Linked DNA regions of Homo sapiens: region 1 is linked to region 2. The links come from fine-mapping of genetic effects on gene expression. Tissue or cell type: esophagus mucosa. Region 2 holds a variant in brackets; the other region holds the start of a gene. All regions are shown on one strand. Distances are from middle to middle.

Evidence for each region. PIP is the estimated chance that this variant, and not a neighbour inherited with it, causes the effect.
Region 1: it holds the start of GSDMC, and the variant in region 2 is fine-mapped to the expression of GSDMC in esophagus mucosa (GTEx, PIP above 0.99).

What each region holds. Positions count from the first base shown.
Region 1 is chr8:129,779,375-129,795,528 of GRCh38, reverse strand. GSDMC (gasdermin C) reads left to right here and starts at 8,905. Exons shown (of 14, transcript NM_031415.3): 1 at 8,905-9,518.
Region 2 is chr8:129,731,063-129,747,216 of GRCh38, reverse strand. It overlaps a transcript of GSDMC not described here. Among named protein-coding and RNA genes, the nearest start is that of GSDMC, 47 kb to the left of the region's middle. The variant C/T (reference allele first, on the strand shown) is at 4,600.

The sequences.
Region 1 (16,154 bases), 48 kb before region 2:
AAAGAAACTTAAAAGCTGTGAGGCAAAAGCATCAGGTTACCTATAAAGGAAAGCCTATCAGATTAACAGCAGATTTCTCAGCAGAAACCCTACAAGCTAGAATGGATTGGGGTCCTATCTTCAGCCTCCTTAAACAAAACAATTATCAGCCAAGAGTTTCTTTTTTTTCCCTTTTCTTTTCTTTTTTTTTTTTTTTTGAGACAGAGTCTCACTCTGTTGCCCAGATTGGAATGCAGTGGTGTGATCTTGGCTCACTGCAACTGCCACCTCCTGGGTTCAAGCGATTCTCCTGCCTCAGCCTCCCGAGTAGCTGGGATTACAGGCACGCACCATCATGCTTAGCTAATTTTTGTATTTTTAGTAGAGATGGGGTTTTGCCATGTTGGCCAGGCTGGTCTCAAGCTCTTGACCTCAGGTGATCCTCCTGCCTCAGCCTCCCAAAGTGCTGGGATTACAGGGGTGAGCCACGTACCTGGCCCAGCCAAGAGTTTTATATTCCATGAAACTAAGCTTCATAAATGAAGGAAAGATAGTCTTTTCCAGACAAACAAATGCTGAGAGAACTCACCACTACCAAGCCAGCACTATAAGAACAGCTAAAAGCAGCCCTAAATCTTGAAACAAATCCTCCAAATATACCGAAATAGAACCTCCTTAAAGCATAAATCTCATAGGACCTATAAAACAATAACACAATGAAGAAAAGAGGTATTCAGTCAAAAACTAGCATGAGGAATAGAACAGTACCTCACATCTCAATACTAACGTTGAATATAAATGGACTAAATGCTTCACTTAAAAACTACGGAATGGCAGATAGATAAGAATTCACCAACCAAATATCTGCTGTCTTCAACCTAACACATAAGGACTCACCTAACACATAAGGACTCACATAAACTCAAGGTAAAGGGGTGGAAAAAGATATTCCATGCAAATGAACAGCAAAAGCAAGCAGGAGTAGCTATTCTTATATCAGACAAAACAAACTTTAAAGCAATAGCAGTTAAAAAAGACAAAGAGGGACATTATATAATGATAAAAGAACTAGTCCAACAGGAAGTTATCACAGTCTTAAATATATATGCATCTAACACTGGAGCTTCCAAATATATAAAACAATTACCACTAGACCTAAGAAATGAGATAGACAGCAATACAATAATAGTGGGGGACTTCAATACTCCACTGACAGCACTAGACAGGTCATCAAGACAGAAAGTCAACAAAGAAACAATGGACTTAAACTATACCCTAGAACAAATGGACTTTACAGATATTTACAGAACATTTTAGCCAACACTGCAGAATATACATTCTATTCATCAACACATGGAACATTCTCCAAGATAGACCCTGTGATAGGCCACAAAACAAGTCTCAATACATTTAAGAAAAATCAAAATTATATCAAGTACTTGAGTACTTGCTCAGACCACAGGGGAATAAAATTGGAAATCCGCTCCAAAAGGAACCCTCAAAACCATGCAAATGCATGAAAATTAAATAATTCTAAACAAATTAATATAGAAGGGTGGGAGGGGGTGTGGAGCCAAAGAGTACACATTGGGTACAGTGTACACTGCTCAGGTGTCAAGAGACTCAACACATAAGGACTCACGTAAACTTAAGGTAAAGTGGTCAAAAAAGATATTCAATGTAAATGAACAGCAAAAGCAAGCAGAAGTAGCTATTCTTATATTAGACAAAACAAACTTTAAAGCAACAGCAGTTGCTTTTGGGTGCACCAAAATTTCAGAAATCACTACTAAATTTCAGAAACCACCACTAAAGAATTTATTCATGTAACCAAACACCACCTGTTCCCCAAAAACTATGGAAATAAAAAAAAAAACAAACTCAAAGGGATATCAGAGAACTTCCCAGATCTAGGAAGGGTAACAATATTCATGTACAAGAAAGTTATATAAAACTTAGCAGATTTAATCCAAAAAAGAGTACCTTAAGTCATCTCATAATCAAACTCCCAAAGGTCAAGTATAAAGAAAGCAAAGCTAAAGCAGCAAGAGAAAAGAAAAGAAAACAAAACAAAACAAAAAAACATACAATGGCGCTCCAATACATCTGGCAGCAGACTTTTCACTGGAAACCTTACGGGCCAGTAGAGAGTGACATGACATATTAAAAGTGCTGAAGGAAAAAACTTTCACCCTAGAATAGTATATCCAGCAAAAATATCCTTCAAGGATGAAGGAGAAATGAAAACTTTCCCAGACAAACAAAAGCTGAGGGATTTCATCAACACCAGACCTGTCCTACAAGAAAAATTAAAGAGAGTTCTTCAATCTAAAAGAAAAAGATGTTAATGAGCAAGAAGAAATTATCTGAAGGTACAAAACTCAATGGTAATATTAAGTACACATAAAAACACAGAATATTATAACTGTAATTGTGGTGTGTAAACTATTCATATCTTAAGTAGGAAAACAAAAGATGAACTGATTAAAAATTACTACAACTTTTCAAGATAGAGTACAATAGGACATAAACAGACACAAAAAAGTTAAAAAGTGGGGAGACAAAGTTAAAGTGTATAGTTTTTATTAGTTTTATTTTTGCTTGTTTATGCAATCAGTGTTGTCATCAGTTTAAAATAATGGGTTGTTAGATAGTATTTGGAAGCCTCAGGGTAACTTCAAATCTAAAAACATACAATGGATATTCAAAAAAAAAAAAAAAAAAGCAAGAAACTAAAACATACTACCAGAGAAAATCACCTTCACTAAAAATAAGAGAGGAAGGAAGGAAAGAAGGAACAGAATTTCACAAAACAAGCAGAAAACAAATAACAAAATGGCATGAGTAAGTCTTTATTTATCACTAATAACACTGAGTGTAAATGGTCTAAACTCCTCAGTGAGAAGATGTAGATTAGCTGAATGGATTAAAAAACCAAACAACAGCAACAAAAAGGCTGGGCATGGTGGCTTACACCTGTAATCCAAGCACTTTGGGAGGCTGAGGTGGGTGGATCACTTGAGGTCAGGAGTTTGAGGCTAGCCTGGCCAACATGGTGAAACCCTGTCTCTACTACAAATACAAAAATTAGCCGGGTGTGGTGGTGCAAGCCTGTAATCCCAGCTACTTGGGAGGCTGAGGTAGGAAAATCACTTGAACCCAGGAGGTGGAGGTTGCAGTGAGCTGAGATCACACCACTGCACTCCAGCCTGGGCAACAGAGTGAGACTCTGTCTCAAAACAACAACAACAACAACAACAACAACAACAACAACAACAACAACAAAAAACAAACAAAAAACCCCCAAAAAACAAAAAACCAAGCACCAATGATCTGTTGCCTTCAGGAAACACAATTCACCTATAAAGACACACCTAGAGGGAAAATAAAGGATGGAAAAAGATATACCATGTCAATGGAAACCAAAAAAGAGCAGGAATAGCTATCCTATATCAGACAAAATAGATTTCAAGACACATACTATATCAAGAGACAAATAAGGCCAGCATACAATGACAAAGGGGTCAGTTCACCAGGGAGATAAAACAATTCCAAATATATATGCACTCAACATGGGAGTACCCTGATATGTAAAGGAAATATTAGCAGCAAAGAGAGAGTTAGACCCTAGTACAATAACAGCTGGAGACTTCAACCCACGACTTTTAGTATTGGACAGATTTCCTAGACAGAAACCCAAGAAAGAAACATTGGACTTCATCTGCAATATAGAACAAATGAACCTAATAGGTATTTACAGAATACCTATCATTCAGTGGCTGCAGAATACACATTTTTCTCCTCATCAAATGGCTCATTCTCAAGAAAAGACCATATGTTAGGTCACAAAACAAGTTGTAAACCATTAAAAGAAGTTGAAATAATATGAAGTATCTTCTCTGACCACAATGGAATAGAACTAGAAATCCATAACAAGAAGAATTTTGGAAACTATACAAACCCATGGAAATTAAACAATGTGCTCCTGAATGACTAGTGAGTCAATAAAGAGATTAAGAAGGAAATTGAAAATTTTTTTGAAACGAATGATAATGGAAACACAATATACCCAAATCTATAGGATATGGTAAAAGAAGTAATAAGGGAAAAATGTATAGCTATAAGGGCCTACATCAAAAAAGAAGTGAAACTTTAGATAAACTACCTAATGATACATCTTAAAGAACTAGAAAAGCTAGAGTAAACCCAACCCAAAATTAGTAGAAGAAATGAAATATTAAAGATCAAATTGGAAAGAAATTATATTGAAAAGAAGAAAACAACACAAAAGATTAAAAAATGAAAAGTCTTTTTTTAAGAAGATAAAATTGACCCATTTCCTATTATTATAATTAATATTTTTTGAGATGGAGTCTTGCTCTGTTGCCCAGGCTGAAGTGCAGTGGTGTGATCTTGGCTCACTGCAACCTCTGCCTCCTAGGTTCAAGCAATTGTCCTACCTCAGCCTCCTGAGTAGCTGGGATTACAGGTACATGCTACCACACCTGGCTAATTTTTGTATTTTTAGTGGAGAGGGGGTTTCACCATGTTGGCCAGGCTGGTCTCAAACTCCTGACCTCAAGTGATCTGCCAGTCTTGGCCTCCCAAAGTGCTGGGACTACAGGTGTGAGCCACCACACCTGCCAAAATTGACCCATTTTTACCCAGACTAACTAAAAAAAGAGAGAGAAGACCCAAATAAATGAAATCGGAGATAAAAAATGAGACATTACAGCTGATACCACAGAAATTCAAAGGATCATTAGAGGCTACTATGAGCAACTATATGCCAATAAGTTGGAAAACCTAGAGGCAATTGATACATTCCTAGACACATACAACCTAGCAAGATTGAACCAGGAAGAAACCCAAAACTTGAGTAGGCCAATAATAAGTAATGTGATCAAAGCTATAATAAAAAGTCTCTCAGCAACAAAAGCCCAGGACCCATCAACTTCCCTCCTGATTTTTTTTTCAAATTAATATTAATTCTTTCAAACTATTTCAAAAAATAGAGGAGGTGGGAATATGTCGAAACCTATTCTATGAGGCCAGTAATACCCTGATACCAAAATCAGACAAAGATTCATCAAAAAAAAAAAAAAAAACTACAAGCCAACAGCTTTGATGAATATTGATGGAAACATCAACAAAACATGAGCAAACTGAATTCAATAACACCTTAAAAAGATCATTCATCAAGACCAAGTGGGATTTATCCTAGGGATGTAAGGATGGTTCAACGTACACAAATCAATCAATGTGATACATCATATCAATAGAATAAAGGACAAAAACCACATAATCATTTCAATTGGTATTGAAAAACCATTTGAATAAATAAGTTCAATATCCCTTCATGATAAAAATTCTAAAAAACTGGATGTAGAAGAAATGTACTTCAACACAATAAAAGCCATATACTACAGACTCATACCTAGTATTATACTGAATGGGGAAAAACTGAAAGCCTTTTCTCTAAGATCAAGAACACAAGAAGGATGTACACTTTTACCACTGTTATTCAACATACTACTGGAACTCCTAGCTAGAGCAATTAGACAAGAGAAAAAAGTAAAGGGCAACCAAATTGGAAAGGAAAAGTCAAATTATCCTTGTTTGTGGATGATGTGGTCTTATATATGGAAAAACCTAAAGATTCCAACATAAAACACTATTAGAAGTGATAAATAAATTAAAGTTGCCAGATAAAAAATCAACATCCAAAAATCAGTAGCACTTCTATATGCCAACAGAGAAGAATCTGAAAAAGAAATCAAGAAAGTAATCCCATTTACAAGAGCTACAAATGAAATTAAATTCTTAGGAATTAATTTAACTGAAGAAGTGAAAAATCTCTTCAATGAAAACTATAAAACATTGATGAAAGAAACTGAAGAGGACACAAAAAATGGAAAGATATTCCATGTTCATAGATTGGAAGAATCAATATTGTTAAAATGTCTATACTACCCAAAGCAATCTTCAGATTCTATACAATCTCTATCAAACTACCAATGACATCCTTCACAGAAAGAGAAAAATCAATCCTAAAATTTATATGGAAACACAAAAGGCCCAGAATAACCAAAACTATCCTGAACAAAAAGAACACAACTCAAGGAATCACATTACTTGACTTCAAATTATACTACAGAGCTATAGTAACCAAAAGAGCATGGTATAGTCATAAAAACAGACACATAGACCAATGAAAAAAGAATAGAGAACCCAGAAACAAATCCATACACCTACAGTGAACTCATTTTTTACAAAGGTGCCAAGACTATACATTGGGGAAAAGACAGTCTCTTCAATAAATGGTGTTGCAAAAACTAGATATCCACACGTAGAAGACTGAAACTAGACCCTTATCTCTCACTATATACAAGAACTAAATTAAAATAGATTAAATAATTGAATCTAAGGACTCAAATTATGAAACTACTACAATAAAACATTGGGGAAACTCTCCAGGACATTGGAATGGGCAAACATTTCTTGAGTAATACCCCACAAGCACAGGCAGCCAAAACAAAAATGGACAAATGCAACCATATCAAAGTAAAAAGCTTCCTTCCAGCAAAGAACAATCAACAACAGAAGAAGAAAACCCAAAGAATGGGAGAAAATATTTGCAAACTAAGCATCTGACAAAGGATTTGTAAGCAGAACACACAAGGAGCTCAAACAATTATACAGGAAAAAATCTAATAAACTAATTAAAATATGGGCAAAAGTTCTAAATAGACATTTCTTGAAAGACGACATACAAATGGCAAACACGCATATGAAAATGTGCTCGACATTATTGATCATCAGAGAAACACCATTCAAAACTACAATGAGATATCATCTCACATCTGTTAAAATGGATTTTACCCAAAAGACAGGCAATAACAGGCTGGAGAGGATGTGGAGAAAAGGGGACCCTTGGACACTGTTTGTGGGAATGTAAATTAGTACAACTACTATGGAGAACAGTTTGGGCCTTCCTCAGAAAAACTGAAAATAGAACTATCGTATGATCCAGCAAACCCACTGTTAAGTATATACCTCCAAAATAGGAAATCAATATATTGAAGAGATATCTGCACTCCCATGTTTATTGCAGTTCCACTCACAATAGCCAAGATTTAGAAGCAATCCAAGTGTCCATCAACAAATGAATGAATAAAAAAAATGGTACGTATACATAATGGAGTACTATTCAGCCATAAAAAGAATGAGATCCTGTCATTTGCAACAACATAGATGGAACTGGAGGTCATTATGTTAAGTGAAATAAGCCAAGCACAGAAAGACAAACTTTACATGTTCTCTCTTATTTGTGAAAGCTAAAAATTAAAACAACTGAACTTACGGAGATAGAGAATAGAATGATGGTTACCAGACGCTAGGAAGGGTAGTGGGGTGGGTGTGCAGGGGTAGGGGGAATGGTTAATGAGTACAAAAAGATTTAGAAGGAATAAGATCTAATGTCTGATAGCACAATATATTATTGACTATAGTCAATAATAATTTAATTGTACATTTAAAAATAACTAAAAGAGTATAATATTTTAACACAAAAAATAAATATCTGAGATGATAGATACCTCATTTACCCTGGTGTGATTATTATACATTGTATGCCTGTATTAAAATATCCCATATATCCCATAAATAAATATATACATCTATGTACCCATAAAAATTAAAGACAAAACAAAACTAAAAACTACAGCTTTGCACAAAGGCTATTGCAACCTTAAACAAAAAATACTTCTGCCAGGACATCTGTCCACCAACTGCCTGTCTAACCTTGGACTGGTGCCACCTTTGTTACTGATCCTTGTAAGCAAAGAATTGATTCAAAACAATTGTGTAATCCTTCTTATTTTTCTTTTTAAAACTTTTTTCTTCCCTTACCTGTCTGAATACACACATAGTTTGTGATGGCACGCATATTCCCATTGCAATGCTCATTCTTGAATAAATATCACTGTCTTTTAGAGAGCTTTTCTTTATCTGTTATTTAGGTTGGTGTGACTCACATAACTGTTCCCAAACAGCTAAGTTACTTTTCTCCGACTTCTGGAATACCCAATAGCAGGTTGGGGCCTATAGAATGTTGGTACACAGAAGGGTTATGTATGTAATTATAATTTTATATTTCAAGTCTATAGTTTTTACAATGGAAATTATAGAACGTGAAAGTTAATTTGGAACATCGTGTCTGGTGGTGATATGCAGAAAGCACAGTCTGAGCTTTGTCCCAAGTGAAGTGCATATCAGGTTCTTACAGTGGAAAGGGAAGGCATAAGACTTTTATGAATATTAAAAGAAAACAAAAGTAAAGTAAATGCATTGTGAAATACTGTCAGCTGAAAGGAATGTTGCTGTATTGAGTGTCAGTTCCAGGAAGTTACTCAAAACTTAAAGGTGTAGCAATCCTGTTTATACAGTTTCTGCTCCTATAGGCACTTTACTTCATCTTGAAACCCATAGGGAGTAATTGGAAAGGACATGGGTTTCAGGCAAGTTTTTAATTCCTTTCACAAATCCCCTTTTTATTTATATTTAAAATAAAGATTGTTGTAAGATTGGATTTAGATAATACATGCATGGTGCTTAACACAGAGGAGGCATTAAGCACAGTAATTCCTGTTGTACAGAGCCCCACATGTAGGCAGTTCAGAGGTGCTTCCCAGGGCCCTGGCGCTAGTGCCTGTCCCTCCTGCTGAAGTTGCCTTTCCTGGTGTCCAGTGATTGAATTCTAAATTCAGCACATATACCAGAGGAATACGAGCCAAAGAAGTTGTTCCAGCTAGAGTTGCTGGGAATCCATGAATCAAAGACTTGCTCAGCTAGTTCTGTATGTGAAAGGAAATGGGTGTGACTCTGAGGAAGCCTTTTTAATTCTGATTCAGGAGATACATAATTAGATGCCACTTGATTTTGTTCCACAGACTTTTTGCTGAGGACTTGAGAGCTAAGGTTCTGTGATCCAGAACTAGTTCCAGACTTACTCTTCTGGAAATGAACAGGGCCCTCCTGTGCTTATTTTTCCAGGATACTGCATTGGAAATTGAGTCAGGGACCCATTGGTGAGAAGAGAACAGTGAACAGAATCACATTGATCTGGTCCTGGAGTTTGTCTGACAATTTCTACTTGACCGCAGGAGGTCTGAAGATTGGAAGGGGCCCTACTCAATTGTGCTATTTTTCTCTCTTTTTTTTTTTTTTGAGACGGAGTTGCCCAGGCTGGAGTGCAGCGGCATGGTCTCAGCTCACTGCAACCTCTGCCTCCCGGGTTCAAGCAGTTCTCTGCCTCAGCCTCCCAAGTAGCTGGGATTACAGGTGCCTGCCACCATTCCTGGCTAATTTTTGTATTTTCAGTAGAGACAGGGTTTCACCATCTTGGCCTGGCTGATCTTGAACTCCTGACCTCGTGATCCACCGGCCTCAGCCTCCCAAAGTGCTGGGATTACAGACGTGAGCCACCGTGCCCGGCCAATCCTGCTATTTCTCTACAGGACAAAGGGATATATAATCTGGTAAGTCCTAATGGGATCAGGGGATGAAAAAGAAAAGATTACTATCATCAGCGACAAAAATGTTCTGGATGGGTTTGTGAAATGAGTCGAAGAGTTTTTTTTCCTACAGAATTTGACTGAAAAGGAAGTTAAGTTCGTCTTAATAATGGAGAATTCCTGATAGCATGTAAGGCTAAGGAATATATCTTCGATACATTATTGCACAGGTCCAGTCTTAAAGAAGCATCTTATATTCTCATTATTCTCTGCTTGTCCAGTGACCTCTTACATGGCCCATATCAGAGAATTGAAATGGTCACATCAGGAATTTTACATGAACTGTTGAAAATTCTGTCTCTCTTCATTATTGAACATATTTAGAAAGTTCAAAAACTGAATTCCATGTAGTTAGGAAGTCCTATTCCTATTTGTTATAATTGTAACAATACAATTATACTCTTAATTGTAACAATACAATTATACTGTTTTAGTTATTTCTAACTGTACAATTATTGACTATAGTCACCCTGTTGTGCTATCGAATACTAGATCTTATTCAGAAATACTAGATCTTATTCAGTCTAACTATTTTTTTTGTGCTCATTTACCATCCCCACCTCCCTCCCACCCCCTAATATCTTTCCCAGCCTCTGGTAACCATCATTTTACTCTATCTCCATAACTTCAATTGTCTTAATTTTTAGCTTTCATAAATAAGTGAGAACATTGTAAAGTTTGTCTTTCTGTGCCTGGCTTATTTCACTTAATGACCTCTAGTCCCCTCTATGTTGTTGCGAATGACAGGATCTCATTTTTTTTTGACACGGAGTTTTGCTCTTGTTGCCCAGGCTGGAGTGCAACAGTGCAATCTCGACTCACTGCAACCTCCGCCTCCTGGGTTCAAGTGATTCTCCTGCCTCAGCCTCCCAAGTAGCTGGGATTACAGTCATGCGCTACCATGCCTGGCTAATTTTGTATTTTTAGTAGAGCGGGGTTTCTCCATGTTGGTCAGGCTGGTCTTGAACTCCTGACCTCAGTTGATCCACCCGCCTCAGCCTCCCAAAGTGCTGGGATTACAGGCATGAGCCACCGCACCCAGCCAATCTCATTCTTTTTTATGGCTGAGTAGTACTCTGTTATGTATATGTACCACATTTTGTTTACCTGTTCATTTGTTGATGGACACTTGCATTGCTTCCCAATCTTGGCTATTGTGAACAGTGCTGCAACAAACATGGGAGTGAAGATATCTCTTCAATATACTGGTTTTCTTTCTTTTGGGTGTACACCCAGCAGAGAGGTTGCTGGGTTGTATGGCAGCTCTATTTTTAGCTTTTTGAGGAAGGTCCAAACTGTTCTCCATAGTGGCTGTACTAATTTACATTCCCACAAACAGGGTACAAGTTTCCCTTTTCTCTACCTTCTCTCCAGCATTTTTTATTACTTGTCTTTTAGATATAAGCCATTTTAACAGGGGTGAGATGATATCTCATTGTAGTTTTGATTTACATTTTTCTGATAACTAATAATGTTGAGGACCTTTTCATATGCCTTTTTTTCATTTGTATGTATTCCTCTGAGAAATGTTTATTCAACTCTTTTGCCCATATTTTAATCTGATTATTAGATTTTTTTCCTATAGAGTTGTGTGGGCTCCTTATATTTTCTGGTTATTATTCCCTTATCAGATGGGAAGTTTGCAAATATTTTCTCCCATTCTGTGGGTTCTCTTTTTCTGTTGTTGATCTTTTCCTTTGCTGGAGGGAAGCTTTGTAACTTGATGAGATCCAATTTGTCTATTTTTGCTTTGGTTGCCTGTGCTGGTGGTGTATTACTTAAGAAATTTTTGCCTAGACCAATGTCCTGGAGAGTTTCCCCAGTGTTTTCCTGTAGTAGTTTCACAGTTTGAGGCTTTACATTGAAGTCTATAATCTATTTTGATTTTATTTTTGTACATGATGAGAGAGAGTGGTCTAGTTTCAGTCTCCTGCATATGAATATCCAGGTTTCCCAGCACCATTTATTGAAGAGACTGTCCTTTCTCTAATGTATGTTCTTGGCACCTTGGTAAAAAATGAGCTCACTGTAGGTATATGGATTTGTTTCTGGGTTCTCGATTTTTTTCCTTTGGTCTGTGTGTCTGTTTTCATGCCAGTACCATGCTGTTTTGGTTACTGTAGCTCTGTAGTATAATTTGATGTCAGATAATATGATTCCTTGAGTTTTGCTCTTTTTGCTCAGGATAGATTTTGTTATTCTGGGTCTTTTGTGTTTCCATATAAATTTTAGGATTGTTTTTTCTCTTTCTGTGAAGAATGTCATTGATATTTTGATATAATTTGCATAGAATCTGAAGATTGCTTTGGATAGTATGGACATTTTAACAATATTGATTCTTCCAATCTATGAACATGGAATATCTTTCCATTTTTTGTGTCCTCTTCAGTTTCTTTCATCAATGTTTTATAGTTTTCATTGAAGAGATTTTTTACTTCTTCAGTTAAATTAATTCCTAAGAATTTAATTTTATTTGTAGCTCTTGTAAATGGAATTACTTTCTTGATTTCTTTTTCAGATTCTTCTCTGTTGGCATATAGAAGTGCTACTGATTTTTGGATGTTGATTTTGTATCCTGCAACTTTAATAAATTTATAACTTCTAATAGTTTTTTGTTGTTGGAATCTTCAGTTTGTTCCATATATAAGACCACATCATCCACAAACAAGGACAATTTGACTTCTTCCTTTCCAATTTGGATGCCCTTTATGTTTTTCTCTTTTCCCCCATTGAGTGAGTCTGTAATATATGGCTTTTTATTATGTTGAGTTATCTTCCTTCTATACCCAGTTTTTTGAGGGGTTTTATCATCAAGGGATATTGAGTTTTATCAAGTGCTTTTTCAGCATTAATGGAAATGATCACGTGGTTTTTGTCTTTCATTTTCTTGCTATAATGTATCACATTGATTGATTTGTGCGTGTTGTACCATCCTTGCATCCCTGGGATAAATCCCACTTGGTCATGATAAATGATATTTTTAATGTATTGTTGAATTTGGTTTCCTAGTATTTTGTCGAGGATGTTTCCATCAATATTCATCAGAAATATTGGCTTGTAGTTTTTTTTTTTTAAGTTTCTTTGTCTTGTTTTTTATTAGGGTAATATTGGCCTCATAGAATGAGTTTGGAAGTATCCCCTCTTTGTCTATTTTTAAACATAGTTTGAATAGGATTGGTATTAGTTCTTCTTTAAATGTTTGGTAGAATTCAGCATTGAATTCACTGGGTCCCAGGCTTTTATTTACTGGGAGACTTTTTATTACAGCCTTGATCTCATTACTTGTTATTGATCTGTACAGGTTTTGGATTTCTTCAAGGTTCAATCTTGGTAGGTTGTATGTTTCTGGGAATTTATCCATTTCCTCTAGATTTTCCAATTTATTGGTGTATAGTTGCTCATAGTAGCTGCCAATAATCCTTTGAATTCCTGCAATATCAGTTGTAATGTTTTCTTTTTCATCTGTGATTTTATTTATTTGGGCCTTCTCTCTTTTTTCTTAGTCTGGCTAAAGATTTGTCTATTTTGTTTATCTTTTCAACAAAGCAACTTTCATTTCATTCATCTTTTGTATTGTTTTCTTAATTTTAACTTCATTTATTTCTGCTCTGATCATTATTGTTTATTATTTTCTACTAATTTTGGGTTTGGGCTGCTCTTGGTTTTCTAGTTCTTTAAAATGCATCATTAGGTTATTTATTTGAAGTTTTTCTTCTGTTTTGATGTAGACACTTATAGCTATAAATTTCCCTCTTTGTACTGCTTTTGCTGTATCCCATGGGTTTTGGTATGTTTGCATTATCATTTGTGTCAAGAAATGTTTCAATTTCCTCATCAATTTCTTCATTGACCCATTGGTCATTCAGGAGCATATTGTTTAATTTCCATGTGTTTGTATAATTTCTAAAATTGCTCTCGTTATTGATTTATAGTTTTATTCCATTTTGTTCAGAGAAGATACGTTATATTATTTCAACTTTTTGAGTGTTTTAAGACTGGTTCTGTGACCTAAAATATGGTCTACGCTTGAGAATGATCCATGTGATGAGGAGAAAAATGTGTATTCTGCATCCATTGGATAAAATGTTCTGTAAATACCTATTAGGTTCATTTGTTCTATAGTACAGACTGAGTCCAAAGTTTCCTTGTTGATTTTCTGTCTGGGAGATCTGTCCAATGCTGAAAGTGAGATGTTGAAGTCTCTAGCTATTTTTTTTTTTTTTTTGAGATGGAGTCTCGCTCTGTCACCCAGGCTGGAGTGCAGTGGCGCGATCTCCGCTCGGCCCACTGCAAGCTCCACCTCCTGGGTTCACGCCATTCTCCTGCCTCAGCCTCCTGAGTAACTGGGACTACAGGTGCCCACCACCACGCCTGGCTAATTTTTTTGTGTTTTTAATAGAGACAGGGTTTCACCGTGTTAGCCAGGACGGTCTCGATCTCCTGACCTCGTGATCTGCCCGTCTCGGCCTCCAAAAATGCTGGGATTACAGGCGTGAGCCATCGCGTCTCGCCTGAAGTCTCTAGCTATTATTGCATTGGGGTCTATCTCTTTAGCTCTAATCTGAATCTAAATCTATTTTGTCTGATACAAGTATAGCTATTCCTGCTCTTTTTTGGTTTTCATTGACACGAATATATTTTCCATTCCTGTGTTTTTATTCCATGTTTATCTTTATAGGAGAAGTGTGTTTCTTGTAGGTAACAGATCATTGGGTCTTGTTTTTTTAATTAATTCAACCACTCTATGTCTTTAGATTGGACAGTTTAGTTCATTTACATTTAATGTTATTACTAATAAGTGAGTACTTTTGGTATTTTATTTTTTGTTTTCTGGTTGTTTTGTGATCTTCTGTTTCTTCTTTTTCTTCTTCCTTTTAGTGAAGGTAATCTTCACTGATGGTATATTTCAATTTCTTGCTTTTCATTTTTTGCTTATTCATTGTATGTTTTTAGATTTGAAATTACTATGAGGCTTGCAAATGCTATCTTAAAACTCATTATTTTAAATAGATGACAACAGTGATTGCATAAACAAACAAACACAAACAGAAAACTAATAAAAACTCTACATTCTAACTTTGTCTTCTGCTTTTTATCTGTTTGTTGTTTGTCTTTATGTCCTGTGGTACTATGTCTTGAAAGTTGTAGTTGCTTTTGATTGGTTTATCGTTTGGCCTTTCTACTTAAGGTAAGAGTAGTTTACACACCACAATTACAGTGTTATAATATTCTGTGTTTTTCTGTGTGCTTCCTACTACCATTGAGTTTTGTACCTTCAGATGATTTCTTCTTGCTCATTAACATCATTTTCTTTCAGATAGAACAACTCCCTTTAGTATTTCTCGTAAGACAGGTTTGGTGTTGATGAAATCTCTCAGTTTTTGTTTGGGAAGGTCTTTATTTCTCCTTCATCCTTGAAGCATATTTTTTTTGCCAGATATATTATTCTAGGGTAAAAGTTTTTTTCCCTTCAGCACATTAAATATGTCATGCCACTGTCTCTTGGCCTGTAAGGTTTCCAGTGAAAAGTCTGCTACTAGACGTATTGGAATTTTATTGTTTGTTATTTTTTCTTTTCTTTTGCCACTTTAGGATTCTTACTTTATACTTGATATTTGGGAGTTTGATTATCAAATGCCTGAGGTAGTCTTCTTTGGCTTAAATCTGCTGGGTGTTCTATTATCTTCTTGTACCTTGTACTTGAATATTGGTATCTTACTCTAGCTTTGGGAAGTTCTCCCTTTGCATAAACTTTCTACACCTATCTGTTTCTCAATCTTCTCTTTAAGGCCAGTAACTCCTAGATTTGCCCTTTTGAGGCTATTTTCTATTGCCCTTTTGAGGCTATTTTCTACATCTTGTAGCATGCTTCATTCTTTTTTCTTTTGTCTCCTTTGACTGTATATTTTCAAATAGCCTGCTTTCAAGATCACTGATTCTTCCTTCTGTTTGATCAATTCTGTTATTAAGAGATGCTGATGCATTCTTCTGTAGGTCAATGTATTTTTCAACTCCAGAATTTCTGCTTCTTTTTAATTATTTCAATTTCCTTAAAAAATTTATCTGATAGAATTCTGAGTTCCTTTTATGTGTTATCTTGAATTCCTTTGAGTGTCCTCAAAACAGCTATTTTGAATTCTTTGTTTGAATGATTACATATTTCTGTCTCTCTGGGATTGGTCCCTGGTGCCTTACTTAGTCCATTTGGTAAGGTGATGTTTTCCTGAATCGTCTGTTTTTAAATTCAAAATTACATTTTATTACAGAATTTAAAAATAATTTTCCTTATAGGCTTCCTGGACTGGTGACTTACATTTTCTTTCTTTTTTTTAATTATATATATATTTTCTTTTTTATACTTTTATTTTAAGTTCAGGGGTACATGTGTAGGTTTGTTATGTAGGTAAACTTGTGCCATGGGAGTTTGTTGCATAAATTATTTTATCACCCAGTTATTAAGCCTAGTAACCATTCGTTATTTTTCCTGATCATCTCCCTCCTCCCACCCTCCATGCTCTACCTTCCAGTAGGCCCCAGTGTGTGTTGGTCCCCTCCATGAGTCTATGTGTTCTCATCATTTAGCTCCCACTTATAAGTGAA
Region 2 (16,154 bases):
GGCACGATCTCGGCTCACTGCAACCTCCACCTCCCAGGTTCAAGTGATTCTTGTGCCTCATCTTCCTGAATAGCTGGGATTGCAGGCATGTACCACCACACTCGGCTAATTTTTGTATTTTTTTTTTTTTGTACAGACAGGGTTTCACCATGTTGGCCGGGATGGTCTTGAACTCCTGGCCTCAAGTGATCTGCCTGCTTCGGCCTCCCAAAGTGCTGGGATTACAAGTGTGAGCCACCGTTCCCAGTCTGTTTAAATTTATTCATTGGTAAGTATCAGTCATTTTGTTTTATTCCTTGAATGGCTGTGATCAAATAATTTTTTCAGTAGTGCTTCACTCCCCAAGTCCCTTCATATTTGAGAAACTTTGCCTCTTGCCTTTGTTCTTGAAGAATTCCTTGGAGAGAGATTATATTTTTAGGTAGCAGGTAACACCTTCTTGCCCTCAGTCTTTTGTAGCCATGCAAAGGTCTCCCGTTGACTTATTGATGCTTTGAAGAAGAACAAGGCTAGTCAAATTTTCCCAAACTCTTTGCATATACATCTAAATGTATGCCTGAAGAATTCTTTCTTCATCCTTGAAGTTAAGCACTTTAACCAGGCAATACCTGTGTCTCAGTCACTCTATGTCACTTTTCCTGGGAGCTACAGATTCATTTTTTCCTTTCAGGAAAATTTCCTCTTATAATAATTAAATATCTTTTATATTCTATTTGTTAGGTTCCCTACCTCACAGATACCAATTGTCCTTTAGGATTCTCCATACATTATCTTGTCTAATTCTTGCATCTTTGATTTTTTTTCGTCTGCATTCTCTGAGATCACGGCAGCTCTTTCCTCTATGTCTATAACTCAACTCTCAACTATAATTACTTTCCAATTCATCAGTTCAGATATTGTGTTGTGACCTTCAGTTCTTTTCCTTAGCTTTACAGTCTCTCTTTTCACATATTTCTGTTGTTGTATCTTTGCAGCTTTGAGGTTTTTACCTTATTAAAGTATTTCTCTTAGATTCTTCCATGGCATAAAACTGTTCTTTTTCTTGAGCTATGTTTTCTACCTGAATTGATTCCTCCACTCTCTTCTTTTCCTGTAGTGTGCTTGTATGGAATCTCTGTCACTTCCCACCTTCTCCCCTACCCCGCACCATGCTCATCCTCAGCATGGGCAGCTCTGTCCAAATTATATTTGCACAAAGACAATAGGGTAAATGAGTTTTTCTCAACTCTTTTATCAATTAAATGAGATGGTTTCTGTTCCTCTGCAAACTATGGATTGAAACCTGTGTTTTCCAGTGCTTAAGGTCATGGCATGTAGAACGGCAGGAGGGCTCACCTGGGGGTCTGGGCAGTCTTGGATGATTGCCCCGGCCTCTCTTTCACCTTCTACGATTTTAAACATTCTCTGTGGTGAATTATACACTATGAACTACTCACTCCTTCTTCAAATTTCCTCCTTTTGTGGCTGCAGAGAAGTAGTGCTCTTGTTTTCCCTATCACCTATTTCTTTTTATTCACTAAACATTATTTACTGAAGGCCTAGTATGTTCCAGTCATTATTCTATGCACCTGGAGTTCCACTTCCCATTGATTTTATATTTCAGTGGAAAAAAAGAGAAAATAAATAAATGTATTATATAGTATATTAGAAAGTAACAAGTGTCATTATTTATCCAAGTAGAGATATTAAGGTTGTAGCATATAATTCGGGAAGATGCCTGAGTTGAAGACAATCATTTGAGCACAGACACTATAGATGTATTAAAGTCATGAGGCTGGATAAGACCACTTAGGAAGCAGTGAAAAATCACTATGAGAGAGTAAGAAGTTCCAGAGACGAATCCCTAGGGAACCCTACTGTTTAGAGGTTGAGTGAAGAGGAGAGAACATCAAAGAAGATGAGGAAGACTGAATGTAAAGTAAGGAGAAAACTAGGAGAGAATGTGACACTTGGAAGCCATATGAAAAAGGTTTCAAAAACTTCATTAAGTGTGATATAAACAGTGCTAATAGATCAAATGGTGCTAATAGATTGAGAGGAGAACTGAGGACTGACTATTGAATTTTGCTACATTGAGGTCATTGATAACTTTGACAAAAGCAATTTTCATGGGCTTGTAGTAAGAAAACTTGATTGGAATTGATTTAAGAGGGAGTGGGAAGAAATCCGTGAGAGACAGTCAGGGTAGGCAACCCATTATCCCTTATAGGCTATGTTTATACTTATTCATCCTTAAACAGTGGACCTCTCTAGGTCTCATCTATTCTCTTTATACATTTGTGGCAGAGAAACGAGTGTCTACACAAAATATTGACTTCCAATATCCATTTTCCACTGCTACCAGTATGATAGCATTGTTAAATGAGCACATGGTCATTCAGAAGAAATAGTATGTTTTCTAGTTTCCTATACAGCTAGGTTGGCCATATGACAAGGGGGATGTAAGCAGCAGTTTTCTGAGTTAATATCCAGAAACCATTCTTAAAGACGGTTAGTGTGTGCCTTCCTTGTCTCTTACTAGTCCCTTTATTCATTTGTCTGCTGGAATACAGATGGGAGGGCAGAGCATTGAGTTGGAGGAAGACTAAGTTCCTGAGGACTTTGTGAAACACAGCTGCGCTGTCAGCCCTACACTGCCTACTTTTTACTTCTGCATGAATGAAAATCAATTTCTTGTTGAAATTACCATTATGTTGGATCTGCATTACTTCTCTCTCAACCCAATTCTAACTGTTATACATTTCCTGGGCAATATTGTTCACAGTTACTATTTCATTTGCTGTCTATTTTTCAAATAATTACCTAACCTCCATCTCTAGAGCAGACATCAACCTTCAGATATATTTCTTAAAATATTGAGTAGGCTTTCACTTTTAGCTTGATTAAATAGCTTTTAGTGAATCTGCTCTCTTTCTGCAAATAAATAAAAACCTCACCAAAATATACTAAACAACTGTTTTCAGATATTGTGTAATAGGAAGCACAGGCAAACAAACAGGAGTCCTAAGATTGCCCCAGGTTTCTGCCTGGAGCACATTCTGAACCACAGTTCAGAAAGAGAAACCTGTATAAGGTGGAGTGGTCTCTCTGAGTTAACAACACAGAGATAGGAGGTTGAGGAGGCCAAAGGAACTAACATTTTTAGGGCAGAGTTCTAGGAAAGAGGGAGTATTATCCAGTAACTTACATAGGGTACCTTGAGCCTTGGTCTAAATACTTAACTTGTGCATGTATAGCATAAGGCTTCAAAATAGTAGATTTAAAAGCTATCAGCTAGCTGTAGCCTGCAAAATTTCTAGAGCTTGACTGGTTCTGGCAGATATTTGGGTTTCAACCAGCTACCATGGACAGAACTCATTGAACACTCAGGACATTCATTAGAAGTCCCAGAAGGATCATGTCTTAGTAGAAGGGATAAGATGTAGAGTGGAGGCTGTATAAACCCCATTTTAACAGAGTATAAAAACAAGCCTCAAAAGAATCAAGTGGATCTGCATATAACTAGTTGCCAGCTAAAGCAAAATTTAACACTTCTTAAAGGAATACAACAAAATCCAGACACATTCAATAATGCAACATTCACAATTCCAGTATTACTACACATGGGAAGAGGCAGGTAAATGTGATCTATAACATATCAATTAGTTAATAAACAGAATACAGAAATGACAGATGGGATGACGATGGTGGGTTAGCTGATAAGGACTTTAAAACAGCTTATTATAAATATGCTCAAGTGTTTAAAAGAAAACAGAAGCCTATTGAGGAAAGAAAAGAATAAATTGAAAATAACGAAATGGAATGTCTAGAGCTAAAAAATATCATGTGTGAAATAAAAATACACTGTACAGGCTTGTTAGTAGAATAGGTAATGCAGATGGAATGATAAATGAAATTTAAGATATAGTAATAGAAGCTAAACTGAAGCACAAAAAACAAAAAGTGCAAAGACCTTCAAGGACCTGTGATACGATATAACACATGTAATTGGAGCCCCATAACTAAAGTGAGCAAAAACAATACTTAAAAGAAATACGTGCTGAAAATTTAATGAAAATGTAATAAAAACCAAACTCCACAGACCCAAATGGCTTGGTGAACTCTGAACAGGATAAGCACACAAGAACACTATCCCAAGATGTACAATAATCACATTCCTGAAAACCAATGATAAAGGGATAACTTTAAAAGCAGGCACAGAAAGACCCAATGCATTCAGAGAAAGAAAGGTTACAATTATTGATGATTATAATGCAAATCCATGATAAAAAGCAAAGCAAAATAAAGGAAAACTATCAATCTAGAATTGACAATAATTTTCAGCAAAATAACTTTCAAAAATGAAAGTAAACTTTTGATTCTGGCCAACATGGAGTAGCAGAGACTGGATTTTTCCTTCTGCTGGAAACAACTAAAAAACCCACAAAATATATGAAATAATGGTTTTCAAGTAATTGGACAGCAGTTAAAAAGGACAGTGAGCCTTGAGAAATGGAAGAAAACCAAGGTGAGCCCTCTGATTGCCCCAGATTACTGTCTTGAGAGAGTTTCCAGCATGGCACAGGAAGGAGGAACCCAAGAACAGCCTAAGAACCTCCT[C/T]GAGTTGAATGGATGAAGGTGAGAGTCTGGGGAAGCCAAGGCAGCTAGAGTTTTCAGGACAGAGTACAGAGAAGAAAGAGTTGTACAGAGAGAAAACCCTAGAGACCTGTAGAATGACCCTGGTTGGATGGCTTGCAATTGTGTGTTGACTAAGTGAGATATCATTAGATTATTGAACAGATTTTTTGTTTCTAAAATGAATATTACTTTAAGTTGATAAATCATAATTGTATATTTTTATGGGGCAAAATGTGATATTTTGATATATGTATACAATAGGGGATGATTCCATCAAGCACATTAATATATCTATCACTTCACTTTCTCATCATTTTTTGTGATGGGGCATTTGCAATTTACTCTCAGCGATTAACTATGGTCACCCTGTTGTACAATAGATCTCAAAAACTTATTCCTTCTGTTTAATTGAAACTTTGTACTCTTTGACCAACATCTCTTCAATAACCCCCATCTTAGTCCCGCCCTAGTATCTGGTAACCTCCGTCCTACTCTCTATTTCTATGAGTTTAACTTAAAAATTTTTCATATAAGTGAGATTATGCAGTATTTTTCCTTTTGTGCCTGGCTTATTTCACTTAGCATTATGTCCTCCACATTCATCTGTGTTGTCACAAATGAAAGCATATCCTTCTTTTTTAAGGCTGAATATTATTTCATGTATATATATATATATATATATATTACATTTTCTTTATTCACTCATCTGTTTATGAACACTTAGATTGGTTTCATCTATTGTAAATAATACATCAATGAATATGGGAGTGCAGATATTTCTCTAACTTATTGATTTCACTTCTTGTGGATATATAACTAGAAGTGGGATTGTTGAATCATATGGTAGTTCTGTTGCTTTTAGTTTTTTGAGGGACCTCCATACTGTCTTCTAACATGGCTGTATTAATTTACATTCCCAGCAACAGCCTACAAGACTTTCCTTTTTTTCACATCCTCACCAACACTTATCTTTCATTTATCTGCTAATAGCCATTCTAACAGGTGTGAGGGGATAGCTCATTGTAATTTTAATTTGCATTTTCCTGATGATTAGAATATTTCCCTGATGATTGAGCATTGATGACAACAATTAAAGAAGACACAAATAAATTAGAAAAATCCCATGTTCATGGACTGGAAGAACTGATGCTGTTAAAATATCCCTACTACCCAAAGTGATCTACAGATTCAATGCAATTCTTATCAAAATTCTAATATCATTTTCACAGAAATAGAAAAAAACCCCCAAATTCATATACAACCAGAAAAGACTGTGAATAGCCAAACAATTTTGAGTTAAAATAACAAAACTGGAGGCATCACAGTTTCTGATTTTAAAAATATATTATAAAGATATTATAATCAAAACAACATGGTACTGGCATTACAACAGACAAATTGGCCAATGGAACAGGATAAAAAGCCCAGAAATAAACCGAAGTATTTAGGGTCAATTGATTTTCAACAAAAGTGCCAAGAATGCGTAATGGGGAAAGAACAATCTCTTCAATAAATGGTATTGGGAAAACTGGATATCCACATTCAGAAGAATAAAATTGGACCTTTATACTCACACCATAAAAAAAAATCAATTCAAAACGGATAAAAGACTTAAACGTAAGACTTGAAACGGCAAGGCTACCAGAAGAAAACATAGGGAAAAGCTCCATGACACTGGTCTGGGCAATGATTTATTGGGTAGAACTCCGAAAGCACGGGCAACAATAGCAAAATTAGACAAATGGATTCCATTAAGTTAAAAAGCTTCTGTGCAGTAAAGGAAGAAATTAACAGAGTGAAGAGACAACCTATGGATTAGGAGAAAATATTTGCAATCCATACATCTGCTAGGGAGCTAATATCCAAAATATATAGTCGTGTATAAATCAGTTGCTTAATGATGGAGCTACATTCTAATAAATGCATCATTAGGTGGTTTCAGTTGTGGGAACACCATAAAGTGTACTTACACAAACGTAGACAATATAGTCTACTGCACACCTAAGCTATATGGTATGGCCTATTGCTCAAAGGCTATAAACCTGTACAGCATGTTAATGTACTGAATACTATAGACAGCTGTAACATAATTATAAGAATTTGTGTAACTAAACAAATCTGAAGTAGTAAAGGTACAGTAAAAATAAAGTATAAAAATTAAAAATGGTACACCTGTATAAAGCCCTTACCATGAACGGAACTTGCAGAAATAGCTTACTATGAACTGAAAGTTGCTCTGAGTGAGTCAGTGAGTGAGCGGTGAGTGAATGAGAGGGCCTAGGATTGCTATACACTACAGTAGACTTTATAAATACTATACACTTAGGCTACACTAAACTTACAAAAAATATTTTTCTTTCTTCAACAATGAACTTAGCTTACTGTGACTTTTTACTTTATAAACTTTTTATTTTTTTGCAAACCTTTTGACTCTTTTATAATATTTAGCTTAAAACCCAAACATTCTAAAGCTGTACATAACATTTTCTTATATCCTTATTCTATAAGCTTTTTTCTATGTAAAATTTCTTTTTCTTTATTTTTTAGTTTGTAAACTTTTTGTTAAAAATGAAGACACAAACACACACACATTAGCCCAGTCCTACGTAGGGTTAGGATAAGCAATATCACTTTCTTCCACCTCCACACCTGGTCCCACTGGAAGGTCTTCAGGGACAATAACATGCATGGAGGTGTCATCTCCTAGGATAACAAGGCTTTCTTCTGGAATGCATCCTGAAGGACATGCCTGAGTCTGTTTTATATTAAATTAAAAAAATATGACAAATGAATACATTCTAAAATAACAATCTATAGTAAACACATAAGCCAGTAATGCAGTCATTTATGATTATTAGCAAGTATTCTGTATTATAGATAACTGTGTGTGCTATACTTTTATATGGCTGGCTGTGAAGTAGGTTTGTTGACAGCAGCATCACCACATACATGTGAAGAATGAGTTCTGCCAGGATATTAGGACAGCTACAACGTCAGCAGGCGATAGGATTTTTCAGCTCCATTATAATCTTATGGGACCACCGTCATACGTGTGGCCTGTCATTGTCAGAAATGTCTTTATATGATGCATGACCATATAAGGAACTCAAACAACTCAATAGCAAGAAAACAAATAATCTGATTTAAAAATGGGCAAGGGATCCAAACAGACATTTCTCAAAAGGAGAGATACAAATGAACTTTTCTGCATTTTTTTCTACTCAAAATGCTCTAATAATTTCCCCTCTAGTTCAAAGTAAAAAGCAGAATCCTAATAGTGCACAGGATTTGCCCTTGCTTGCTTCTGTCCCCATCGCTTCATAATTTTTCCTTAGCTGCTCCCTCCAGCCACATGGCATACTTGCTGTCCCTTAAGCCCTCAGGCACAGTCCCATCTCAGGGCATTCTCACCTGTTGTTCCTTCTGCCTGGAATGACCTGCCTTGAACGTGCACATGGCTTGCCACCCACTTCCTTCAGGTCTTCAGCAAACCGACATCAAACATGTATACCTATGTAACAAACCCCAGAACTTAAAGTATAATAAAAAAAAATAAAAACTCTTTTTTCTTTACTTTTATCTGACTGGATTAGTTCAAAAACTGGTCTTCAAGCTCTAGCTCAGACTTTTTCTTCTTCTTGGTCCAGTCTATTGATAAAGGTTTCAGTTTTATTTTGAAATGCCTTAAGTGAGTTTTTCAAATCTAGAAACTCTGACTGATTTCTTTTTAAGATGTTTATCTCTTCCTTCATTTCCTAGATTGCTTTAGAAGTATTTTTTTTCTTTTTTTTAAAAACTATACTTTAAGTTCTAGGGTACAAGTGCACAACGTGCAGGTTTGTTACATAGGTATACATAAGCCATGTTGGTGTGCTGCACCCGTTAACTCGTCATTTACATTAGGTACTTCTCCTAATGCTATCCCTCCCCCTGCTCCCCACCCCACGAGAGGCCCCAGTGTGTGATGTTCCCCACCCTGTGTCCAAGTGTTCTCATTGTTCAATTCCCACCTATGAGTGAGAACATGCGGTGTTTGGTTTTCTGTCCTTGTGATAGTTTGCTGAGAATGATGGTTTCCAGCTTCATCCATGTCCTTGCAAAGGACATGAACTCAACCTTTTTTATGGCTGCATAGTATTCCATGTTGTATATGTACCACATTTTCTTAATCCAGTCTATCATTGATGAACATTTGGGTTGGCTCCAAGTCTTTGCTATTGTGAATAGTGCCACAATAAACATATGTGTGCATGTGTCTTTATAGCATGATTTATAATCCTTTGGGTATATACCCAGTAATGGGATCAATGGGTCAAATGGGTCTAGATCCTTGAGGAATCGCCACACTGTCTTCCACAATGGTTGAACTAGTTTACAGTCCCACCAACAATGTAAAAGTGTTCCTATTTCTCCACATCCTCTCCAGCATCTATTGTTTCCTGACTTTTTAATGATCACCATTCTAACTGGTGTGAGATGGTATCTCATTGTGGTTTTGATTTGCATTTCTCTTATGGCCAGTGATGATGAGCATTTTTTCACATGTCTGTCTGTTGGCTGCATAAATGTCTTCTTTTGAGAAGTTTCTGTTCATATCCTTTGCCCACTTTTTGATGGGGTTGTTTGTTTTTTTCTTGTAAATTTGTTTAAGTTGTTTGTAGATTCTGGATATTAGCCCTTTGTCAGACGAGTAGATTGCAAAAACTTTCTCCCATTCTGTAGGTTGCCTGTTCACTCTGATGGTAGCTTCTTTTGCTGTGCAGAAGCTCTTTGGTTTAATTAGATCCTATTTGTCTATTTTGGCTTTTGTTGCCATTGCTTTTGGTGTTTTAGTCATGAAGTTCTTGCCCATGCCTATGTCCTGAATGGTGTTGCCTAGGTTTTCTTCTAGAGTTTTTATGGTTTTAGGTCTTACATTTAAGTCTTTAATCCATCTTGAATTAATGTTTGTATAAGGTGGAAGGAAGGGATCCAGTTTCAGTTTTTACATATGACTAGCCAGTTTTCCACATATGACTAGCCAGTTTTCCCAGCACCATTTATTAAATAGAGAATTCTTTCCCCATTTCTTGTTTTTGTCAGGTTTGTCAAAGATCAGAAGGTTGTAGATGTGTGGTATTGTTTCTGAGGGCTCTTTTCTGTTCCATTGGTCTACATCTCTGTTTTGGTAACAGTACCATGCTGTTTTGGTTACTGTAGCCTTGTAGTATAGTTTGAAGTCAGGTAGCGTGATGCTTCCAGCTTTGTTCTTTTGGCTTAGGATTGTCTTGGCAATGCAGGCTCTTTTTTGGTTCCATATGAACTTTAAAGTAGTTTTTTCCAATTCTGTGAAGAAAGTCATTGGTAGCTTGATGGGGATGGCATTGAATCTATAAATTACCTTGGGCAGTATGGCCATTTTCACGCTATTGATTCTTCCTACCCATGAGCATGGAATGTTCTTCCATTTGTTTGTGTCCTCTTTTATTTCATTGAGCAGTGGTTTGTAGTTCTCCTTGAAGAGGTCCTTCACATCCCTTGTAAGTTGGATTCCTAGGTATTTTACTCTCTTTGTAGCAATTGTGAATGGGAGTTCATTCATGATTTGGCTCTTTGTTTGTCTGTTATTGGTGTATAAGAATGCTTGTGATTTTTGCACATTGATTTGATATCCTGAGACTTTGCTGAAGTTGCTTATCAGCTTAAGGAGATTTTGGGCTAAGATGATGGGGTTTTCTAAATATACAATCATGTGATCTGCAAACAGGGACAATTTGACTTCCTCTTTTCTTAATTGAATACCCTTCATTTCTTTCTCTTGCCTGATTGCCCTGGCCAGAACTTCCAACACTATGTTGAATAGGAGTGGTGAGAGAGGGCATCCCTGTCTTGTGCCAGTTTTCAAAAGGAATGCTTCCAGTTTTTGCCCATTCAGTATGATATTGGCTGTGGGTTTGTCATAAATAGCTCTTATTATTTTGAGATAACGTCCCATCAATACCTAATTTATTGAGAGTTTTTAGCATGATGGGCTGTTGAATTTTGTCGAAGGCCTTTTCTGCATCTATTGAGATAATCATGTGTTGTTTGTCGATGGTTCCGTTTATGTGATGGATTACGTTTATTGATTTGCATATGTTGAACCAGCCTTGCATCCCAAGGATGAAGCTGAGTTGATCGTGGTGGATAGCTTTTTGATGTGCTGCTGGATTTGGTTTGCCAGTATTTTATTGAGGATTTTCACGTCGATGTTCATCAGGGATATTGGTCTAAAATTCTCTTTTTTTGTTGCATCTGTGCCAGGCTTTGGTATCAGAACGATGCTGGCCTCATAAAATGAGTTAGGATTCCCTGTTTTTCTATTGATTGGAATAGTTTCAGAAGGAATGGTACCAGCTCCTCTCTGTACCTCTGGTAGAATTCGGCTGTGAATCCATCTGGTCCTGGACTTTTTTTGGTTGGTAGGCTATTAATTATTGCCTCAATTTCAGAGCCTGTTATTGATCTATTCAAAAATTCAATTTCTTCCGGAGCATGTGTGTGTCCAGGAATTTATCCATTTCTTCTAGATTTTCTAGTTTATTTGAGTAGAGGTGTTTATAGTATTCTCTGATGGTAGTTTGTATTCCTGTGGGATTGTTGGTGATATCCCCTTTATCATTTTTTATTGTGTCTATTTGATTCTTCTCTCTTTTCTACTTTATTAGTCTTGCTAGCGGTCTATCAGTTTTGTTGACCTTTTCAAAAAACAAGTTCCTGGATTCATTGATTTTTTGAGGGTTTTTTGTGTCTCTATCTCCTTTAGTTCTGCTCTGATCTTAGTTATTTCTTACCTTCTGCTAGCTTTTGAATTTGTTTGGCCTTGCTTCTCTAGTTCTTTTAATTGTGATGTTAGGGTGTCAATTTTAGATCTTGCCTGCTTTCTCTTGTGGGCATTTAGTGCTATAAATTTCCCTGTACACACTGCTTTAAATGTGTCCCAGAGATTCTGGTACATTGTGTTTTTTTTCTCATTGGTTTCAAAGAACATCTTTATTTCTGCCTTCATTTTGTTGTTTACCCAGTAGTCATTCAGGAGCAGGTTGTTCAGTTTCCATGTAGTTGTGTGGTTTTAAGTGAGTTTCTTAATCCTGAGTTCTAATTTGATTGCACTGTGGTCTGAAAGACAGTTTGTTGTGATTTCTGTTCTTTTACATTTGCTGAGGAGTGCTTTACTTCCAACTATGTGGTCAATTTTGGAATAAGTGCGATGTGGTGCTGAGAAGAATGTCTATTCTGTTGATTTGGGGTGGAGAGTTCTGTAGATGTCTATTAGGTCCACTTGGTGCAGAGCTGAGTTCAAGTCCTGGATATCCTTGTTAATCTTATGTCTCGTTGATCTGTCTAATATTAACAGTGGGGTGTTAAAGTCTCCCATTATTATTGTGTGGGAATCTAAGTCTCTTTGTAGGTCACTCAGGACTTGCTTTATGAATCTGGGTGCTCCTGTATTGGGTGCATATATATTTAGGATAGTTAGCTCTTCTTGTTGAATTGATCCCTTTACTGTTATGTAATGGCCTTCTTTGTCTCTTCTGATCTTTGTTGGTTTAAAGTCTGTTTTATCAGAGACTAGGATTGCAACCCCTGCTTTTTTTTGCTTTCCATTTGCTTGGTAGATCTTCCTCCATCCCTCTATTTGAGCCTGTCTCTGCATGTGAGATGGGTGTCCTGAATACAGCACACTGATGGGTCTTGACTCTTTATCCAATTTGCCAGTCTGTGTCTTTTAATTGGAACATTTAGCCCATTTACATTTAAGGTTAATATTTTTATGTGTGAATTTGATCCTGTCATTATGATGTTAGCTGGTTATTTTGCTTGTTAGTTGATGCAGTTTCTTCCTAGCATCAATGGTCTTTACAATTTGGCTGTTTTTGCAGTGTCTGGTACCAGTTGTTCCTTTCCATGTTTAGTGCTCTTTTAGGGCAGGCCTGGTGATGACAAAATCTCTCAGCATTTGCTTGTCTGTAAAGGGTTTTATTTCTTCTTCACTTATGAAGCTTAGTTTGGCTGGATATGAAATTCTGGGTTGAAAATTCTTTTCTTTAGGAATGTTGGATATTGGCCCCCACTCTCATCTGGCTTGTGGAGTTTCTGCTGAGAGATCTGCTGTTAGTCTGTTGGACTTCCTTTTGTGGGTAACCTGACCTTTCTCTCTGGCTGCCCTTAACATTTTTTTCCTTCATTTCAATCTTGGTGAATCTGACAATTATGTGTCTTGGGGTTGCTCTTCTCGAGGAGTATCTTTGTGGTGTTCTCTGTATTTCCCGAATTTCAGTGTTGGCCTGCCTTGCTAGATTGGGGAAGTTCTCCTGGATAATATCCTGAAGAGTGTTTTCCAACTTGGTTCCATTCTCCCCATCACTTTCAGGTACACCAATCAAATGTAGATTTGGTCTTTTCACATAGTCCCATATTTCTTGGAGGCTTTGTTCATTTCTTTTTACTTTTTTTCTCTAAACTTCTCTTCTCACTTTATCTCATTAATTTGATCTTCAATCACTGATACACTTTCTTCCTCTTGATTGAATCGGCTGTTGAAGATTGTGCATGCATCACGTAGTTCTCATGCCATGGTTTTCAGCTCCATCAGGTCATTTAAGGTGTTCTCTACACTGTTTATTCTAGTTAGCCATTCATCTAATCTTTTTTCAAGGTTTTTAGCTTCCTTGTGATGGGTTTGAACATCCTCCTTTAGCTCAGAGAAGTTTGTTATTACTGACCTTGTGAAGTCTACTTCTGTCAGGTCATCAAAGTCATTCTCCATCCAGCTTTGTTTCATTGCTGGTCCTCACCAGCTGTCGTCCTTTGGAGGAGAAGAGGCGCTCTGGTTTTTAGAATTTTCAACTTTTCTGCTCTGGTTTCTCTCCATCTTTGTGGTTTTATCTACCTTTGGTTTTTGATGTTGGCAGCCTACAGATGGGGTTTTGGTGTGGATGTGCTTTTTGTTGATGTTGATGCTATTCTTTTCTGTTTGTTAGTTTTCCTTCTAATAGTCAGGTCCCTCAGCTGCAGGTCTGTTGGAGTTTGCTGGAGGTCCACTCCAGACCCTATTTGCCTGGGTATCACCAGCAGAGGCTGCAGAACAGCAAATATTGCTGCCTGATCCTTCCTCTGGAAGTTTCATCCCAGAGGGGCATCCGCCTGTATGAGGTGTTAGTTGGCCCCTACTGGGAAGTGTCTCCCAGTTAGGCTACATGGGGGTCAGGGACCCACTCGAGGAGGCAGTCTTTCCATTCTCAGAGCTCATGCACCATGCCGGGAGAACCACTGCTCTGTTAAGAGCTGTCAGACAGGGATGTTTAAGTCTGCAGAAGTTTCTGCTGCCTTTTGTTCAGCTATGCCCTGCCCCCAGAGGTGGAATCTACAGAGGCAACAGACCTTGCTGAACTGTGGTGGGCTCTGCCCACTTTGAGCTTCCCCAGCTGCTTTGTTTACCTACTCAAGCCTCAGCAATGGCGGACACCTCCCTCTCCTGCCAGGTTGCTGCCTCGCAGGTTGACCTCAGATTGCTGCGCTAGCAGTGAGCAAGGCTCCGTGGGTGTGGGACCTGCTGAGCCACATGCGGGATATAATCTCCTGGTGTGCTGTTTGCTAAGACCATTGGAAAAGCACAGTATTTGGGAGAGAGTGTCCTGATTTTCCAGGTACAGTCTGTCACGGCTTCCCTTGGCTAGGAAAGGGAAATCCCGTGACCCCTTGCACTTCCTGGATGAGGCAATGACCCACCCTGCTTCAGCTTGCCCTCTGTGGGCTGCACCCACTGTCCAACCAGTCCTATTGAGATGAACCAGGTACCTCAGTTGGAAATGCAGAAATCACCCGTCTTCTGCATCAATCACACTGGGAACTGCAGACCGGTGCTGTTCCTATTCGGCCATCTTGGAAGAGAATCCTTTAGAAGTTTCTTTGTGTTGATTTTCAACCTTGTCCTGGAGCTCATTGAGCTTCCTTGCAATCCATACTCTGAATTCTTTATCTGTCATTTCCGAGTTTCCATTTTGATTACAGACCATTGCTGTAGATCCAGTGTGATCATTTGGTGGTGTCACTACATTCAGATTTTTTGTGCTGGTTCCTTCTCATCTGGAGACCTTGGCACTTCTAATATTTGTAATTATTTTAGTGTGGGTAGGAGTTTTTCTTTTTATTTCCCTATAATAGTATTATTTTTTCTTTCCCTTTTCCCCCCTCCCTAGGGGGTGTAACTGTAGAGAATGCTGGGTAGGGTCTTTTGGCTTTCCTTCTATAGCCCTCTGCACTTCTTTCAGCAAGTTTTTTTTTTTTTTAATTTATAAAGAACAGAAATATATTTCTCACAGTTCTGGAGGATGGGAAATCTAAGATCAATGATCTGGCACTTGTTCGACTAGGGCTTTCTTGCTGTGTTCTCACATACAGAAAGCAAGCTAGCAGGATGCTCCCTGAAGGCTCTTTTATAAGGGCCTTAATCCCAGTCCTGAGAGAGAACCCCTTGTGGCCCAGTGACCTCTTAAAGGCCCCACCTCTTGATGCTATTGTATTGGCAACACTTGAATTTGAGGGGACACATTCAAGTCATGGCAAACTGAACATTTCCCTTTTGCCAGACAGCACCACGTTCTTTGTCAGTAGGTGGTGGTAGAGGGACACTGCAGAATAAAGGGGCTTCTCTTGCTTCTCCTCTTGCTTCTAAGAGGATGCTGTGACAGTTAATTTTAGGTGTCAATGTGGCTGGGCCACAGGGTGCCCAACTATTTGGTCATATATTTTTTTAAAATTTTAGATATTTAACTTTTGCTCTGACTTTCCAGTTATAAGGTCAAACTTTATTCTGGGTGTTTCTGTGAGGGTGTTTTTACATGAGATTGACATTTAAATCAGTGAACTTTGAATAACGCAGACTGCCCTCCTCGATGTTAGTGGGCTTGATCCAGTCAGTTGAAGGGCTGAAGAGAAAAAAGACTGTCCTCTTCCAAGAAAAAGAGAATCCTCCAACAGATACCTTTGGACTGGACCCGCACCATCAGCTTTCCTGGGTTGCCAGCCTCTTGCCTCACACTCCAGGTTTTGGACTTGTTAGACTTAATAATAATCACAGAAGCCAATCCCTTTAAGGTAGTTTCTCTGGAGAACCTTGACAAACACAAACATCTACTGAGAGTTCCTGTCCAAGTTTTGCTCACACCCTAGCAGGAGGCTCCTGGCTTACCAGTCCTGAGGGTGTGAGGTTGTTTGCTTGCAAGACCTGATCCACTAGCTGCACAGCAGCTCTGGCCCAGGGCAAGGCAGGGAACTACCCTATCACTGAGTAGTGAGTAGTCACACTCTTTCCATTAGGTCTGACTTCACCATGGGGAAGAGGAGCCCCTTCCAAGGATATTCTTTCCTTGGGTACTCAGTCCTAGGACATTGTAGCTCTTTTTTATCCTTCTTAATAGCTAATACCATTATCAGTTAAAAGTTTTTTTATATTAAAATTATCCCTGTTCAAGTTAATGGTATGGTTTCTGTCTCCTGGCTGGGTATTAGGATAT